Linked DNA regions of Homo sapiens: region 1 is linked to region 2. Evidence: fine-mapped expression QTL. A gene starts in region 2. The other region holds a variant in brackets. All regions are shown on one strand. Distances are between the middles of the regions.

The links. PIP is the estimated chance that this variant, and not a neighbour inherited with it, causes the effect.
Region 1: its variant is fine-mapped to the expression of PITX1-AS1 in whole blood (INTERVAL, PIP above 0.99).

Annotation. Positions count from the first base shown.
Region 1 is chr5:135,272,140-135,281,760 of GRCh38, reverse strand. The region is part of intron 3 of PITX1-AS1 (PITX1 antisense RNA 1); the gene reads right to left. Among named protein-coding and RNA genes, the nearest start is that of LINC02900, 29 kb to the right of the region's middle. The variant A/G (reference allele first, on the strand shown) is at 4,371.
Region 2 is chr5:135,029,380-135,039,000 of GRCh38, reverse strand. PITX1-AS1 (PITX1 antisense RNA 1) reads right to left here and starts at 5,727. Exons shown (of 6, transcript NR_161235.1): 1 at 5,461-5,727. PITX1 (paired like homeodomain 1) reads left to right here and starts at 4,773. Exons shown (of 3, transcript NM_002653.5): 1 at 4,773-5,288; 2 at 7,493-7,725. The coding sequence starts at 5,120. It overlaps EPIST (esophagus epithelial intergenic associated transcript), which reads left to right. Exons shown (of 2, transcript NR_105050.1): 2 at 1-170. RefSeq lists enhancers at 5,257-5,889, 9,214-9,621 and a silencer at 7,060-7,267.

The DNA of each region.
Region 1 (9,621 bases), 240 kb before region 2:
CCCATGAGTCAGTTACCTCCCACCAGGTCCCTCCCACAACACAGGGGAATTGTGGGAGCTACAGTTCAAGATGAGATTTGGGTGGGAACACAGCCATACCATATTAGGATCCATGCCCCAAAACTTAGCATCACACAATATACCTATATAACAAACCTGCACATGTACCCCCATATCTAATATGAAAGTTGAATTTTTTTAAATCTTGTTCAAGAATGTTTGTATCAGCTTCACTCATAATAGCCTCAGACTGTTAACAACCTAACCTCCTTCAAAAAGAAAATCAGTAAACAAACAGGTATTTTTATACAATGAAAATACTGTTCAACAACTTAAATAATGAAATACTGATGCATGTGACAGTATGGATGCATCTCAAAATATGATGCTGAATGAAGAAACCAGACACAAATGAGTACATAGAGTACATACTGTGTGACTTCACTTACATAAAACTCAAGAATAGACTAAGCTAACCTATAGTGCTAGAAATAAGAATAGTTGCCTATTAGAAGTAGGTGGGACTGACTGGAAGGGACACAAGGGACTTTCAGTGGTAATGAAAGTGTTCTATGTCTTGGCTCTGGTGTTGGTCAAAGGTGTGTATATTTGTCAAAATTCATCAGGTTACATATTTAAGCTATATGCATTTCCCTGTAGGTAAATTTTGCTTCAGATTTTTTAAAAAAGTGATCATGCTGGCTGCTGCATGAGAATAGACAGTCAGGCTAGAGGGAGTATGGGCAGAGAGCAGTCAGCAGGCTGCAGCAGTTACCCAGGGCAGAGACGGCAGCGACTTGGACGCAGTGGCAGCAGTGGGGAATGAGACAGATTTGGAATGATAGTCTTCTCTAGAGCATCTTCTCTTGGGATGACAGCCCTCATAAATCTCCTCTCTCCCCTTTACAGTATTGCACCATGGGACCCATTGCACTAATTCTACAAACACTATCGACAGCCATCCATGCCAAGTACCTGATCATTTTCCTCTTCTCAGGATTCTGTTTATATATATTGGGATCCTGCCTGTGTTCCAAACCAGACTCTATCCCTTATTAGTGCACAATCTTGGGCAAGTTTAGTAACTTTCCAGAGCCTCAGTACTATTTTTATGTAAATGGGGATAATACTTAACATTTATCCTGAGGACTTATTACAAGGATTCGACGTAGATAAAATAATGCTTATTCTTAGGTTTAAATCAATAATGGCAAAGTGGCTAGTCCACTATCAGGCACACAGTGTGTAGTGAAGAAGGGATACACCCTTCCCTTCTTCCCCAGTCTCCCAAACTAGGTTGGTGCTTCTATTCTTGTCTTCCAGACCACATAGTGAGCCACAATGATAGGTGTGCTGCGGGTCCTAAATAAATATCTGCTTTGGTTATTGGCCAAAAATATCACAAAATAAGATACTTCGCGGAGTGGATTCTGGGTGCAGATTTGCTCAGCTGAGAATGTGGTTTTAGAGAGCATGGCTTTGCCCTAATTAGAACCCAACAAAACTCAAAATTTCAAATGTAACTCAGATCTTTGTGGGCTCAGCTCAACTTTGTGGTTGCAAAGTTTTCAAAAAATGTGGTTCTAAATAAAAGCTAAGGTAAAAGCCTTGCTTTAAAAAAAGCTAATAAAGACTATTGACTTAAATAATGCTTTATGAAGCAATATTATGATGTATTAAAAGCAAAAAGAAAGAAAGAAACATATGGATTAGATTCCCCTGGAAATATATCAACTTTTAAAGTGTAGGGAAATGGCACTCAGGAAAATATGGAGGCTTTGTTCAACTGAAAACACAAACCATTTTCTGAGTTTATTAAGACGTTTGCATCCATGTGATAAGCTCAGAGTGGGCTCCCTATTTTTTGGTCAAGTGGTATCAGACCACTCATCTTCAAAAGCCAGTCAATGCATCATGCAGCAAAATCAAACATATTTGAATAAGATAGAGACATTTTGTGAAAACACCAGAGTTGAGGGAGAAATGGACTTGGAATCAAAGCTAACTTGTCCGACGGGCTTCTATTTGCTTTCAACAGAAGATGACATATAGCTTCCAGTCAAAGATGGGGAATTAAACATACATTTACCTGTACTCCCTCGAGAAACACCACTTAATTAACAGTCAAAAGAATTTTGTTATGGTATAATCCCCATGGACAATGAGAACAGGAAAGAATACAACAAGAAGAACATTTTGGAAGCTGGACAAGTGGTAACCAATTTAGCTGATCTAAACAATTTATTCCTAAATCAACAGTAATAAAAGTCAAAAATCAACTAGTCAGGAAATGGCCACAACATTATCTCTGGAAGTGAAGACCAATGTGCATCTAAAAAGAGGAGGATTGGTTTACAATCGGTTTAGGAATCTGCCAAACCTTCAGATACCTATCGTCATTCCGTCTAGCCAGATGACAGCCTCTTCACCACTCCTGCAGAAGACCATAAGATTATTTTCTGGAAAGGATGAAATAGTATTAAGATCACCAAGCACTGTTAAAGGTGGATGTATCAGAATGAAAACAGAAAGATTAAGTGAAGTTTCACATGCTGTTATGGACTGAATAGTGTCCCCCCACCAATATCCATATGTTGAAGCCCTAATCTCCAGTTTGACCATATTTAAAGATAGGGCCTTTAAGGAGGTAATTAAGGTTAAATGAGGTCATAAAGATTGGGCCCTGATAGGACTAGTCTACTTATAGGAGAGGAAGAGACACAAGAGTGCAAGCTTTCTCTCTCTGTGGACAGGCACAGAGGAAAAGCCATGGAGGACATAGTGAGAAGGCTGCTGTCTACAAGCCAGGAAGAGAGGCCTCACCAGAAACCAACTCTGCTGACCCCTTGATCTTGGACTTCCAGCCTCCAAAACTGTGAGAAAATAAATTTCTGTTGTTTAAGCCACACAGTCTGTCATATTTTGTTATGGCAGCCCCAAAGGACTAATATGCATATTGAATAAGGAGATGATGAGCCTTCGCCTGCTAAGCTCCCAGAATGCTGGTAGTCAGATATATATCCTCCAGGCAGAAGACCGGAGAAGATTTCTCCAAGCAATCTGATTAGTTTCAGAAAAAAGACCAAAAAGATACCAACATAGACCAACATAGAGGATTTTCTACGAAAACAGCCCAGGTAGATGACACTACATGAAGTTTATGATTCAAACAGCCCCACCCAAGTACCTGGAGCTTTCAGGTCAGCTTTGTAGTTACCTTCACTCTTAAATATGAGCAACAACCAAGAATCACTAGGCATTTGAGGAAACTACCTAGTAGAAAATATAGTGTACAAAACAAATAGGTAAGGAGAAGAAAACTTTGATAAAATTATTAATATTAGAGAATATTACATCTATGAAACAAGATGCTATTTTAAAAAGGAACATTTAGAAAACAGAAAAGAATTCTTAGAAATGTTTTTAAATGATGGTAGAAATAAATGCAATAAAAATCTCAAAGATTTAAAGAAGTGGCTTAGAAAACAGAGAAGGCAAAAAGATGAAAAATAAGAGAAAAATAAGAATATGGGAGAAAAATTCAATAGATCTCATATTCAAATACTAGGAGTTCAGGGTCAGGGAGGAGGGTGGAACATAAGAGAAAAATGAGAGAGAAAATCATCAAGGAAATAATTTTCACAAGTAATAACCAAAATTGAAGGATGTGAGTTTCCAGATTGAAAAGACCTACTAAATGCCTCACACAATGAGCAAAAATAGATCCAAATCAAGGAACCTTCTGAAATTTCAAAATAACGAGGACAAAGAAAAACTCCAATAGTAAGAGAGAAACAAACAGTTTTCACACAATAGCCTTCTTAGCAATCCTGGAAGCTTGAAGACAATGGCACAAGTCCACCAATGTTCTGAGAGAAAAGTATCTCCAACCTAGAATTCTATACCCAGCCAAACCATCAATTAACAATGAGAACTTAAATAATAAAAAAAAAAAAGAATGAGGATACAGGCCAGGCGCGGTGGCTCATGCCTGTAATCCCAGCACTTTGGGAGGCTGAGGTGGGCGGATCATGAGGTCCGGAGATCAAGACCAACCTGGCTAACATGGTGAAACCTCGTCTCTACTAAAGACACAAAAAATTAGCCAGGCATGGTAGCATGCACCCACCTGTAGTCCCAGCTACTCAGGAGGCTGAGGCAGGAGAATTGTTTGAACCGGGGAAGTGGAGGTTGCAATGAGCCAAGGTTGTGCCACTGCACTCCAGCCTGGGTGACAGAGCAAGACTCCGTCTCAAAAAAGATAATAATAAAAATAATAATGAGGATACAACAAATACATTCTCAGACATGCAAGGTCTCAAAAAAAATTGCTTACCTCTTTGTAAGTTAATGAAAAAAAAATGTGCTTC[A/G]TCAAAATGATGAAGCAACTCAAGAAAGAAGAGAACATGGAACCCAGGAAACAAGATTAGTAGGAAAGGAAACCTGAGGAATCGCCAAGATATTCATGAAGAGTAGTCCTCAAACAACAGCTGAAGAGCAGACCTAGGAAGCACCCAGTCTAGCTCCAAAGGTTCCAGGAGAGATGTCCTCAAAAAGATGAAATTGGTAGAACCAGAATTGTGGATATAATTTTGAGACAAATTGTATTCAACTTGGGGAGAATTTGGTGTTGGATTGGTGACATATACATAAAAAACTAAGCAGAGGGGGAAAAAGATTAACTCCAGGGAATAAATGTGGATCAGGAAAGTACAAGTCATCACAGCTCAGCTGTGAACAGCGTTTTCAGGGTCAAAGTAGTATAATCACTGAATATTGATCTAATAAAATTACACTATAACTGTTTGGAAAGATGGCAGATGGGAAGCAGGGGTGTCGACAGGCAGTGGGGAAAACAGCTAACTCTTCTTCTTCTCCAGTGAGGAGTCAATACACAATGCTGAAAATGGAAAATTCAAGTAGCAGAAATATAAATATGACATTTAGAGATACATATTTTAAAAATTAGCTAAATTACTAAAAGTAGATGCCTCTAGATAGTAGAAAATTGTTGTGGAGGGGTGATGGAGAAGTCCAGGACTTTGTGTGCTTGCACGTGTGTGTTTGCAACAAGCATGCTAGAGTTATTCTACCCTCTAAACTATGTGCAAAGGTAACATTTATTTTGAAATTAAATGTAAAACAAAAACTAATTTAAAAAAAAAACTTTAAGAGAAAAAAAGGAGGAGGAGGAAGGGAAGCAGGGTGGGGAATGAGAGCAAAAAAGGCATGGCTGCTGTGCCTGATGAGAAGCCACAGGCCAGCTGCACAGGCGGCTTCTTCCAGAGGCTCCCACCTGTCTGACTGCACTCCCGACAGAGGCCTCCGCTAGCTCCCAAAGATTCAAGCACAGAAAGCATACATTGTTCCTCAAATTCCGTACACTTGAAAACTGTCTGGATGGCCCTCACAGGAAATGCAGATTTGCACACCCATTTGGAAGATTCATTTTAGTCAGACTGACCCCAGGGTCTCTCCCCTGGAGAACACCTGCTTACCAGCACAGGGGTGGGGTTGGTTCTGAGGACGCAGACGGATCTCAGCCCTCACCCCAGCAGCTGTGTATCCTAATTCAACAGGGGGACTTGAGAACATACAACCCACTGCCTATTCTTCAAGGCCTGGGAAGAACAGGATTCCCTGGACACTGGCAAGTTCAGACCCAACCCCTTCTGTTTCACACTGGTCCAAGCACCGCAAGACCCCATTTTATGCTTGAACCTTCTAAATAGGTGACTATGCCTGAAAGCCATTTCTTAAATAGTTCTTAGTAGGATCTTAGAGGAAAAACATTATCAGTCCAAGCACACCCACAAAACTTGGAACAGCATTTTATTTCTTAACTACTAATGTGTAGTTCACATGGTTTGACTTCTTCCTTTATAATTATAAAAGTAATTCAGGCATATAATAAGAAATTCTGACACTATGCATAAGTAGAATAAGAAGGCTCTCTCCCTGCCAGGCTCCCAAGACCTCTGTCTAAAGGTAATCACTGTGAATAGTTTCTTATGCATTCAAAGAGGGTATAATCTAGACATATAAACATATGTATGAACATATACCTTTCATTTAATACCAATGGGAGTATTCTCTACATTCTCTACATAATGCTCTGTACCTTTCTGTTTCTGTACTTGACATGTCTTGATGATATGTTAAGATCTTCAATACATTATAGGCCCTTCATGTTCTAACAGCTTCAGGATATTCCATTGCATAGATGTACTTGGTTTAATCAGTCCTCTCTCTGTGGACATTTACAGTTCTTTTTTTTTTGCTGTAATAAACAGTGACATGATGGATGTTCTTAAATTGATATCACTGCACTCATTTATGAACACGACTATATCCATAAGATGAATTCCTACATATAAAATTGCTAAATCAAAAGGATGGTACATTTTTCATAGAAATTGCCCAACTTTCCTCCAAAAGTCTTATACCAATTTACACTCCCTGCCCTGACTGACCATGCCTGTTTCCCCACATCCTTTCCAACAAAATGCATTACCAAATTTTAAATTTTCATCAGCCTGCTAGTTAAATGCTATCTTGCTGTGTTAATAGGCATTTTTAAAAATGTAAGTTTCTTTTCATTTGCTTATAAGCTTTTCGCTTGATTATAAATACTTCTTTTTCTGTGAACTTCCTGCTCAAGTCTTTACCCAACTTTCCATTGAGTTATCCTTTTTTTTCTGATTTTTAAAGGTTACATATAAACTCAGGAAATTAGTCAACTTTGAAGAATTACGTGCCTGACTTATTAAATGCTTTTTTTTTTTTTTGAAACCGAGTCTCTCTCTGTCACCCAGGCTAGACTGCAGTGGCCCGATCTCAGCTCACTGCAAGCTGCACCTCCCGGGTTCACACCATTCTCCTGCCTCAGCCTCCCGAGTAGCTAGGACTACAGGAGCCCGCCACCACGCCCGGCTAAATTTTGTATTTTTAGTAGAGACGGGGTTTCACCGTGTTCGCCAGGATGGTCTCGATCTCCTGACCTCGTGATCCGCCCACCTTGGCCTCCCAAAGTGCTGGGATTACACGCGTGAGCCACCGTGCCCAGCCATTAAATGCTTTCTTAAATATTAAGTCCTATAAGAAACGGGAGAGTCCTCCCCGTCTCATGGAAGCACCTAAAAGCAAGAGAGTAGTAACCACAACAGCAGTGCTAACAGGTGCACATTTAATAGGTGCTACTAGTGTGCTGAGCTCTGTTCTAAATGTTTTTCATACATCATCTCATTTACTCTTTACCATAACCCCATAAGGAAGGTATCATTACCCCCATTTCATAGACAAAGAACAGGTCTAGAGAGGTAAAGTAACTTGCCTAAGGTCCCACAGCCAGTAAACAGCAGAGCAAGGACACAAAACCAGGTTTGTCCCATTCTAGAGACCCAGCTATTAACCACTCCCACACTGTCTACTGTCTGCTTCCCAATGTTTGGCAGGAAGTAGGGACTGAAGGTCAGGTTGGTCACTCCAAACCTGGTGCAGCTTGATGCCACCTTGGAGATGCAAACCACCAGTCCAGCATGTGGGATCTGAGGGCGGGAGCCAACTGTCCTGTCCTCTGCTGTGTTCTCAGTTTCTAGGAAGGTCTCTGACACAAAGTAAGCATGCAGCAAATGGTGGCGGAGTGACAGCGTGAATGAGTGAATTTACCTGACTTCTCACTTGACCACAAGCTCCTTGAGGGCAAAGACTCAGCCGGTCAGCTGTTTCTCCCCAAAGCGTAGCCCAGTGTCTTGCACAGAAAGGGAAAAATCAAACAATGTTTGTTGAATGCAGTGAGCCCTCCACCGTTTTTGAAAGATGGCTCTGCCAAGCTTCAGCTTTCAGTCCAGGTGGAGGAACACCACCAACTCCAGGAAATATTTTATTGGACAACACTTGACGTGTCTCCCTGGGGAAACCCCAGGTAAAAGGGCTGGAGGTCCAGGGAAACAGGTCAGGAGGATGAGGGTGGCTCTCCCAACTCACAATTCAAGTCACTGGTCCCCTTTCCCCTCCCATGCCCCCAAGATTGTGGCCATTCATGTTTCTCAGCTGAGAATAACAGCAGTCCAAAGCGAGCACACAGTTACCTCCTAGTTCACTGAGTACAGACCCAGCTTTCTACCTGCATTAACTCATCTGCTCTTCAAAACAACCATATGCAACATGCACTATTATTGTCCTTATAGGTGAGGAAAGGCACAGAGAGGTTAAGCAAGTTGCTCAGGGTAACATAGGGCAGAACCAGGACTTTAACCCAAACACACCACTGGGCTTTTCTGCCCAGCAGCAATGCTCTCCTCTCCTGAGGGCCCAGCAGCAATGCTCTCCTCTCCTGAGGGCCCAGCAGCAATGCTCTCCTCTCCTGAGGGCAAACCTCTCACATCCTGTTCATCCTTCCAGACTCAGCTCCAGCCCTCCCCGCTGGACAAGGGTCCCAGTTCCCACCCATGGCCCTTGGGGTCCCTCAGCTGGGCATGACTTTGCTCCTGGTTCTGTTAGCCGCAGCAGGACCAGCCTAGTCTTATTAAGCTCCTTGGGGTGCAAGTACGGACTCTCTATGAGGGCTTGCCTGCCCAGGCTTCCTGTCTTCTGTCCCCAGCACCATGTGCCTGGCAGTAGGGCCCTCAAGGGCAGCCTCCCTAGCCTAGAAGAGACCTGTCCCCTCAAATGGCTTAGTGGGTGTAGGTGCCACCGGGTGTGCCCTTTCCTCTCCTGTCTGGCCGAGACAGCCCCTGACCCTGAGGGAACTGCAGTGAGGCCGCAGTGAGCTGGGCCCCCTCTCTCAGGCCCGGCTCCTTTAGGCAGGCATTCCTGCCACTTCTGTGACCTGTGCTGAAGAGCCTGGCTCTGGAGTCAGACATGGGTTTAAATACGCTTACTATCCATATGCCATTGGACAAGTTATTCAACCTCTCTGAGCCTAGGTTTCCTCAGCTGTAACACAGGGACAGTAAGTGTATCCACCTCACACCACAAGGGCTTGGGGAGGATTAGATTAGTTGTTAAGACCCCTTACTTTTCCGGAACCTACGCTGTAGTCAGGCACTGGTCTCGTATCACCACAGGGACCTGCATTATGGAGCCCTCAGAGTGCCGAAAGCCCTGAGGAGCCCTTTCCCTGGGGAGTGGCCCTCGGCCTCCCCGCCACTCCCATGCAGGCCCAGCCCCCTTTCTTCATTGCAAGCCCGGGATCCCTGACAAGACAAGTTCTAGTCTACAGCCAAGCCCTGCTGGAGAGGCCAGATGACCAATGTCCAAGGCCTGCCGTGGCTCCCTGCAGCTCCAGCCCCACCATGCTCCCATCCCCAGGTGAATTCTCAAGCCTGGCAGGACCCCTGAGAAGAGGGAGAGCCCAGAGAGAAAAGCTGTGAGGAGGTGGCACAGTCCTCACGCCAGATCCTCCGCACCACCTGTCTTGTCGTTCACTTGTGGGCCCTTGTCCACTGGGAGCAATAACAGCTCCTTCCTGCCATCTCCCAGCCGCGCTGGGCATCCCTCGCCCACCCTTTCTCTCCCTCCTCCCTTCCCAGAGCTCGGCTAAGCTCGCTCTTAATTGGCCTGACAAAAACAGTCACCAGGGGAAGTCCTTGAAGTTGGGGATTTCAACAAAGCTAAACC
Region 2 (9,621 bases):
CCCTGGCTCTCTTCGCCCCGGACCCCGACGTCCCGCCGCAGCGCTCGGAGGTGCCCCCAGCCCAAGGCAGCCTGCTCTCGCCGGCACAGGTCGGGCTTTTTCTTCCCAGGAGAGAAACCCCAATTCCCTTCGTAACGTCCAATAAAGACATTCCCGCGGCTTCTCCCAGGTTTGGTTGTTGACGCAGGGTCCCGGAGCACGCAGTCGCTTCTCAAGAACCGGGTCTCGGATTTCTGAAATTGACCAGCTTCGTAAATTGGAGCCTATTCTCCCGCGGCAAAGGCAGGGCCCCAAAGCCGGGATCGCAGTAATGGGAACCCCAGGCTGGAATCCGGGTCCCAAGCTTTTCCGATTTAGGAATTCCCCGAATCTACAAATATTTAGTCCACTTTTCTGAAAAACTAAATTCTGAAAAACACAAATTCTCTTGACATCCCTGTGACCTCTGAAAGCCACCAGGGCCAGAGGGAGGAAATCCCAGGTTGCTGTCCACTGGGGGAGGATTCAGGTCTAGGGTTCAGGTCTACGGTAGTCAGGGCAAAAGCTACAGGCAGCAGGGGCAGCACAGGAGACTTGCTGTCCCCGTGCCCTTTCCCGGGGCTGCTTTCGGCCTCCCGCATCTCTTCCAGGGAAAGGAAAAGAGGTGGGCTGGGGCTTGGAGACCAGGCTGTCTGGACTCTAGGATGCAGAGGCCTCCAGACAGGCTCAGGGTGCTCTTCTCCCATGAAAGCAGCCGCTGGGAGGAGGAGGCTATGGTGCATCCATAAGTTGCCCCTCTGCTCCCCAGTTGTGCGACCAGCTGCTACCTCCTTCCTAGTCTTCTTCCCCACAGCTCAGCCATTCTCAGGAACCAGACAGCGTCCATGGACTTAGGTGAGAGATGGGCCGGGTAGAGCCATGGGTCCTACCAGCCGCTGACTGAGCGGCCCACGGCACAGAGTCCTGAGTTCCATACTCCCATCTGTGCCTCACTGGCGGCAGTCCTGCTCAAATACATCCTGGCTCTCCCCGGGACAGGCTGGGGATCCCCATTTGGCAGGAAGCCTCAGACTGGGGTCCCAGGAAGCCTAAAGGAGCCAGTGAGGTCTTTCCAGCCCCTACCTGAGCACCCTCCTCCCCACTTACCCAGTAATTGCTGTATTCAAAGAAACGGGAGCTTTTATTGGGGAGGGGGTGTTAGATCAGGCAGAAAGAGGTAGGTGGTCCAAACCTGCACTCCCAAAACAGGGTTTTCAAGTTTGAACTTCTCCACGGACTAAGAGGCTTAGGGCTGGAATGTCCCAGAGAGTCATGGATAGCCCTGGTGGCAGGCCATGGCACATTCCTTCCTTTTTCCTAAAATACCTTGATTCTGGGAGCAAGGATTAGGGCACGGTGCCCCCGTGGGTGGGTAGAAGGATGCCCCCCCACTGAGAGCCTTCCAACCACCCTTCCCAAATTACATTACTAAACCATTCTTGGGCACAGGGTGTTTTTAGTGAGCCAGGCTTCAGGAAGGGTCCTCATGGTGACTACTTCAACCCCACAACAGCCCAAGCTCTTCTGCTCAGCCCAGCCAAGACCCTAAACTCCAAAATTCTTGAAAATCAGAGAATCATTGCTGGCTTTGTGTGGTCACGGAGGGGTGGGGAACAGGGCACATGGTTCCAGCTCCACTAAGCCCCCTTCCCTCCTCTCTTCGTGTCCCATCAGCAAGTGAGCTGGATGCTGAAGCAGCAGGCAGAGTCCGGTGTTGGACATGGGAACTGAGGCACAGTGCAGATCAAGCCTTAACCTTGAGGGAAACACAGGTCACATAGCACAGCTGGGGGAACACAAAGCCTCTGCTTACTCCTGAAAGAGTGCTGTTTTCTGTCCTGTATGTGTGACGTGTCTGTGAGCGTGCAAGAAGCCCCTATCTTGACTGGGACAATGGCCAGTGAGTGTAGCTGGGGAAGAATTGAGAGCATGTCCAGGTCCCTTCCCCAGCCAACGCCCAAGATCAGGCCACAGCCTCCTCACAATCAATTGCCTCCTCACTCCTTGATCACTCAGTGCTGCCCAGGCCCAGCAGAACAGACTCTGCCAGCAGGCCCCACTAGCCCCAGCTCCTCTTTGGGTCTCAGGTCCCCTGAGGATATGGGGCTTCACCTGAAATGGTCTGAGGGCTTTTCCTTCTACACAGCAGGCATCAAGATCACCAAATAAAGGGACTATTGTGCCTGCCTGGAGCCCTGCCAGAGGTTTGGGCCCAGAGGGGCACACAGCAGGTGCTCAATAACTGCATTAAATGCACTAACAGTGAGGAAACACGCCCCTCAGACTAAGCAGTGAGTGCTGCTCACAGAATAGTCCCCATTGGGGGATGGCCCAAAGAGTCACTTTGGTCCCTCTGGGAAGTGAGAAGGCAAGTGAGAAGGCTGTGAGTCTTAACCTCCTCTAGAGGCCCACAGACAGACCATTCATTTCTAAGTCTCTACCCAGAGACGCACTGTGCTTCCCACCTTGGCCTGACATGTGGCAGGGTTAGAACACACCTCCTATCCCCTGCCAGCCCGCGTTCATGCCAAGTAGCACATATATGCCTAAACTCAGCACTTCCATAGTGCAGTGAATACATGTGTGTGTACAGCATCTCCGCATGGATGTACAGGATGTGTGTGTGTGTGCGTGCCCCCATGCTGTCTGCATTCAGGCTGTTCTTTTTGGTAAGACAGCTAAAAAAAGAATGGTCTGTGAAGGGACACTCCCTAGCACGCTGCAACACCTGAATATCTCCTTGAAAGGAGGGATCTTCTACTGCAGGAGACTCGTGGTAAAGGTGGCCAAGAAACATGGCAACGGTGGGGCTGAGGGCAAATGCTGGGCAACTGTGCTTCCCCATGTTCCCCTCCCCGTAGCCAAGACTCATTTCATGGAGGGAGATCTCAGCTTGGAAGAAGGCAGGAGTCACTGAGCCTCCCCAATCCAAACCCCTGAGAAGTGTCCTCCCTCTGGCCTCAGACCCTGCATCCTGTGGTCACAGACCCACAGTGAGAAAGGACCAGGCCCTAAGGAGCTGTGCTGTCTCTCCACGGCCCAGAGCGGGGGATGGGGATGGGGATGGGGATGGGGATGGGGATGGGGATGGGGGTAGGGGTGGGGGTGCTTTGGACTAACGTGGAGGGAATGGAAGGCAGGCCTGGTTCCACCCTGCATGCCCGACCCTGGCCCCAGCAGCCCCCACAAGGAGCTCAGCTGACCCTGGGTGTCTCCCTGTGATGGGAAGGGGTAAGACGAGGACTCAAAGGCAGAACCTGCAGAGTGCCCCAGACGCTGATACCTGCACAGTCAGTGCCACCCACCCAGGAGTTGAGGAGGCACTGGGTTTTGGGGTGAGGACACTGGACACCTCCCTGCTTCTTTCCCAGGCAGACAATCCTGGCGCAGCTCCCTTGGGTTGCTGTGTCTGGTGGAGCTGATCACAGGTGAGGGGCAGAGGGCAGTCTGGGGTCCGCCTATGGCCAGAGGAGCAGGTCAGGGCGGCGCCTTGCCGCCCCAGCTGTGGCCTGTTTGCTCAAGACGCTGAGGTCTCGGGGCCAGCTAACAATTGTTGAGCAAAATCCTTCGACAAACTTCACCTACGTGCAAGGACTCGAGGAGGGAATCACTCTTAGGAGTGGGAGAGTAATGTCTTTGCCTGTGCCCAGTGAAGGCCCATTGGAGCTGCAGCTCAGCTACCACTGTGTGGGAGAGAAGCTGGAAGACTGAGGGCTTCCTGGGCTGCTGGCCCAGGGTTGGGAGACAGCAGTCACCTGGCTTACCAGGCCTATGCCTGAAGCCCTGGGAAGCCAGGACGCAGGCCCCAGGCTGGGACAAAGCTACCCTGAAGGAGGGCAAAGGCTGCCAAGGCCAACCCCATGCCTGCCAAGGCCAGGCCTGGCCCATTTGGCCAAGGCCTAAGGTGTAAAACAAGGGGAGAGGTACAAGAGGCTGTGGGGTCTGGCTGGGATCCTTGGGGTCTTCCTTCTGCATTCTCCAAACGCCTAGAGCCAGCAGAAACGTTTCGTCTGATTAGAAGCCATCATTTCTATCCCAATCCCGGAAAATTGACTGCGGTGCAGAGAGGGAGGCCTGAGAAGCAGCCGTAGGGGAGAAGGTCCAAGCTAATTAGGAGGCAGCATCCGGGGGCCCATTAGAGCGCAGGCTGCTGTCACTCAGCCGGGCTGAGTTCCCGGGAGAAGAGGCTGGAGAAGGAGGGGCAGGCGGCCCCTCGACGAGGACACCGCTGGGAGCTGCCGGAACGGGCCCCGGGCTCTGCCCCCGCCCCGGCGCTGGCTCGAAGGCGCCCGCTCGGTGCGATCCTGTTCGGCAAACATTCACTCATCCTGGGCTGTTCTCGCCAGGGCTGGGGACTTCGAGGCGGCCGAGACGGGAGTTGATTCTAGGCGAAACAAGTCATTTGAGGCCTGAGGTGTGCACGAGCCGCCCGGGACTCGCAGGCCAGATGCGTTTCTTTTGTGAGGCCGAGGGAGAACTCGGTGTGTCACCGGGGAAGGAGGGAGAGGCGCGGCGAGGCCGCGGGGGGCGGGGAGGCGGCGGGAAGGTGGCTGCGGAGGGGGAGGGCGCGGGCGAGGCAGGGAGGGAGGGAGGGCGGCAGTGAGGGCGCGGCGGCGCGGGCGGCTTGGGGCTGGATTCCGCCCGCGCTCCCTCGCTCGCTCGCTCCCTCCCCAGCCCCCTCCCACCCAGGCCCACCCCACCCAGCACCCCTGGCGCAGGGACTGCTGGAACCTGGCTGTGCGCGCTGTCGCTTTAAGACAGACTCTGCCGGCGCCGTCCGGAGCCTTAGAAACCGGCCCCGGATCGCGAGCCGGAGCCGGAGCCGGAGCCGGGGCCGGCCGGGCTGCTGAGGCCCGAGCGGCAGGAGCGCAGCGCGGAGCGCTGAGCCAGGCGCCCAGTCGCGAGAAGCTGCCGCCGCCTCTGCCCGCCCGGCGCCGCAGCCCCGGGCGGTCCATGGGGCGGGCACGGCGTCGCTGCAGGCGCCGGCAGCCCTGGAGGGCAGCCGCTTAGGCGCTGCGCTCTTGTCCCCGCAGGTCGCAGCCAGGGCGGCGGGGCGCGCCCAGCCCCGGCCCCTGGAGCGCCCGCCGCGGTCCCCACCTCCATGGACGCCTTCAAGGGGGGCATGAGCCTGGAGCGGCTGCCGGAGGGGCTCCGGCCGCCGCCGCCGCCACCCCATGACATGGGGCCCGCCTTCCACCTGGCCCGGCCCGCCGACCCCCGCGAGCCGCTCGAGAACTCCGCCAGCGAGTCGTCTGACACGGAGCTGCCAGGTAAGCGCCGTTCCCCGCGCGGCGCGCACAGAGCCTACCCGGGCGCGGAGCACGGGGAGCTGGGAGCAGGGCCTGACGCCCGCGCCGCGCAACCAAGCTCCCTCTCCGCCCCAGAAGCGTCAGGAGCTTTCTTTTTCCCGTTCTCGACCTGACGGTGAACGCGGAAACTTACGCACACGCGAAGGCACTTCCACGCGGTCCCCACGCGCCAAGAGACTGGCAGATGCACGAGCCTACAGCTGGAGGGTTGGACTGACAGCCCCTCTTGATCAGGAGTAAATAGAACGGGAAAGAATTTGATTTGCGCAACTGGGCGCTAAGGAGCGGCTCGGACGAAGGGAGAGGAGGAGACCGAGAAAGGAAGAGGGGTGACGGGCGAGAGAACGCACTCAGAGAGACAGAGAGGGAGGTTAACACCGTGACAGTAGGCGACAGAATGAAAGAGACCAAAGAGAAGGGGCGGGCGGGAAGGGTAAACGGGGGGAGAGGGGTCATCAAGTAGAAGGGAGACACAGAGGACGGTGAGGGCGAGCGGGCCAACAGGCGCGGCCGGACTCCCAGCAAGGCCAGCCGGAACGCCGATCAAGGGATCCGGCCCACGTGCGCGGCCGAAGCCCGGAGCAGCCCGGCTCTGGCCCCCGCCCCGGCTCCTGCGCGTCTCCCTCCGCGCTGCCTTTTTTTGTCCGAGCTGGAGCTTTTTTCCAGCAGCGAACTGGGCCCGCGGGTGGCCGGCGCGGGCAGTGGGGCAGCGAATCCGCTGCCCAGCGCAGCCGGCCGGGTTCCGGAGGGGCTCCGAGCTCCCCGGTGTGGGCGCCTCTTCTGCGTTCATTTCTTAATACACAGCTGAATGTTTCTCTCCACTTTCTTAGTATCTGTTTCTCTTTTGCATCCCTAAGTGATTTTTCTGAGAGGTTGTTTGCTTGGTTAAAACATAATCAACGCTGAACTCTACTTTTGTTTTCAAAAGTTTTAAGCGCGGTCTTTGGTTGGTTTTATTTTTAAAACCTAGAGAGATATATAATCGTATATTGATTTTTTTGAACCAAATCTATGAGGATGAATTAATTTTAACTGTATCTTTCGATTCTGAAAGAATTAACGTACGAAGTGTAGGTCTGGAATTTAAAATATCTACATGCAACATTATTCTTCCGGAGATTTTAAAAAGTCAATCCAAAATGGCGCGTTTCTCCGGAATTTTCTCAAAATCCATTTACAGTGGTGTTATTTGGGGAATTTAAATTATCTAACTATAATGTGTTTCTCTGGGATTTAAAAATTATCTCTACAAGGGCCTTATTGGGAAGGAGTTAAAAATCTATCTACAACGGTACATTATTTTTTTAAATCCCAGAGAAATAAATGCTTCTGTCAACCTGGAGTTTATACACTTACAGCTCTGTATTTAGTTAGGGGTGTGTTTGTACGGAGCTTTCTGGCTTCTTAATTTACATTTGCTCTGTGTTTCTTCCTGTCTGATTTTGAGAATTTGTGGCCCTTTCAGTGTCTTTAGGCATAGAGCTGTGAGCTTTTCTGGGCTTCTGTGTTTTGTTTTTAAACTCTTTTTCTTTATGTATTAATGTTTCTATGACTGCGTGTGTTTTGTGTAGCTTCAAAGAGAGACAGACTAAAGCCCGAGGTCACCTAGACAGAGTCTGTCTGTCTGGGCTGCAGTTGGTGGGGTTTTCTAGGCTTTGGGACTGGAGGCCTGGAAGCAAGGCCGAGAACCCGGCTGTGTTGTGCCTGCCCAGTGGGGCTCCCATACACCCCTGAGGAGAAGAAAGTGGAGGGACTTTAGGCTGGAGAGATCTGATCCTAGTTCAGAAAAGCAGAGACCCCCTCAGATTTAGACCCCCTAAGAGTTCGCAAAACAAACAAACAAAAAGCATACATTTGCTGGGAACATCAGCAGCAGGGTCAGAATCTGAGCCGAGCTAAGGGTGCAGGCCCTGCCCAGCCAGGAACGCAGGCCCGCGGCTCCAGCTCCGATTCTTGGGCTCTTCTCCGCGGCACACCAGACTAGAGGTGCCTACTGACGACCAGCACCCGGCGGGCGCTTTCCAGTGGGGACAGTTCCCAGGAACCCTAGAGGGAGGGAGGGAGGGAAGACCGCCAGCGCTGGTGGCGAGCGGTTCGGTGGAGCCGGGACGGGGTGCAACGGGGCGTAAGCCCAGGTGACCCGCTCCCCGTCCTGCCTACTGCAGAGAAGGAGCGCGGCGGGGAACCCAAGGGGCCCGAGGACAGTGGTGCGGGAGGCACGGGCTGCGGCGGCGCAGACGACCCAGCCAAGAAGAAGAAGCAGCGGCGGCAACGTACGCACTTCACAAGCCAGCAGTTGCAAGAGCTAGAGGCCACGTTCCAGAGGAACCGCTACCCCGACATGAGCATGAGGGAGGAGATCGCCGTGTGGACCAACCTCACCGAGCCGCGCGTGCGGGTGAGCAAGGGGTGCGCGCCTAAGGGCACCCGCGCAGAGGGCTCCCGGGCCGCCTCTGCTGCAGCCCTCCAAAGCTTAGACCCACAAGCAGAACTTCACTCTCCCACCATTCAGACCTGCTCCCTCCCTCCACCGGAGATCCCCACCTTAGGCCCTGGCCCACTAGCGTCTGCCAGGCCTCCAGGCGCCTCGGACCTTCAACCCCTTTGACCCTCATCCTACCTGATCCTCGGACTAAGGCAACCCCAGCCCAAAGACCTGTGCCCCCAGGGGACTCCCCCATGCCCTATGGGGCCCAGGACCCACTCAGATGTTAGCAGGATACCCTGGGCCAGAGACTGGGCAGTGGATTCCCTGCCGCTGGGGACCTCGGGAGCTGTTGGCCTTATCCCGAAAACGAAAGGGAAAGGCAGGTCCTGTCTGGCTGCCTCGGAGAAGCCTGAAAGGTGCCTGGGTTTGGGGCTCTCAAAACTTCCTGGAGCAGTGGTCCCATCTCATAAGCAGATTCTCTAAAAGCTCAAGATATTCTCCACCCTCCCCAGCCATCAGTAGGACCCTTTGCCTTCTGCCCTTTCCGGAAGGTCTCCCGTCAGGTGAGGTGGGGGGTGGCTCCGGGAGCCAAATGTCCTTCCCAGTCCCTTTTAGGATATGCCATCTCAGACCCAAGACCAGCCTGCATTCTCCCTCTTCTCACCCGTTTGGTTTCCAGTAAAAGCAAGGCTTTCCTGCCAGGGTAGCAAGAGAATCATTTCTTCCCTGGGGGCGTAAATATTTAATCAGATATTGGGAGCACCTCCCAAGTCGACCAAAATCCCAGCTGGCCCACAGACTCCTTACCATAACCCCAGCCCTCACCCCTCCCTAGGCAGGCTGGCCAGCCCAGTGGGACTTGGAATGAAGACACAGCACTCAGTAATCCTGAACTCACTAATCCTGCCCAGGTTTATGGTGGTAGGGGTGGGTGGGGGTGGAATCAGGTAGTGTCAGTGCTGGGGACTAGGGAAAGCTGAGAAGCAGGGATCTGGCAAACTAGCTCAGGAAACTCCACTCAGAACTGGAGGAAAATCCGAGTGGGCAGAGGGCATGCGGTAGGCAGATAGGTAAGGATGGGGGAGGACTAGGAGGTTCTTACCAAATTTGGGGGGAGAAAAGGAAGGGCAGGAAGATTAGAAGAATCTAGTAAGAATAGAAAAAATTTAAATATTTGTGGAGAAACATATTTGGCATATATTTAGGCGGCAGGAAAGAAATTAAATAGGAAGCAAAAAGATCAGGTATTTGAGAAAAAGAATCAACTGTTTAAGGGGAACAGTGCAGGTCAGATATTTGGAAAGGATTCAAAAGCCTAATATTTGAGGACGATTCAAAAGGATCAAAAATGGGGGATAAACAAGAAAACAGACTGAGGGAGAAGAAAGAGGTTCAGACAGTGGGGTGGACTGAACGAAAATAAACATTTGGAGCCAAAAAGAAAACATCAAATATTGCCGATAAAGATGATAACAAACTATTTGAGCGATGAAATAGATCGAAGAATTGGGGGAGTCGGAAAGTCCTATGTCTCAGGGAGGAAAAATACCTTTTGTATTTGAGGGAGAATAAAAAGACTGAAATATTTAGTAGATAGAGCGAACCTGTTTGGGGGAGAAGGCAGAGGTGAACTGGTTGAGAGAGGAAGAAAGAAAACGAATATCTGTTAAACGAGAATCCGTATTCGGAGAAGAAAACGGATATAATTTCGGGAGAGGATAAAGATCGGAAAAAGAAATTAGTATTTTCTGGGGACAGGAAAGGAACCATTGTGGAGGGAATGCAGGAGCGGAAATATCGGTCGAAGGAGAGAAACGACGTTCGGAGGGCAGCGGGCCGACGGAAGGCTCCAGGCGGTGGGGAAGG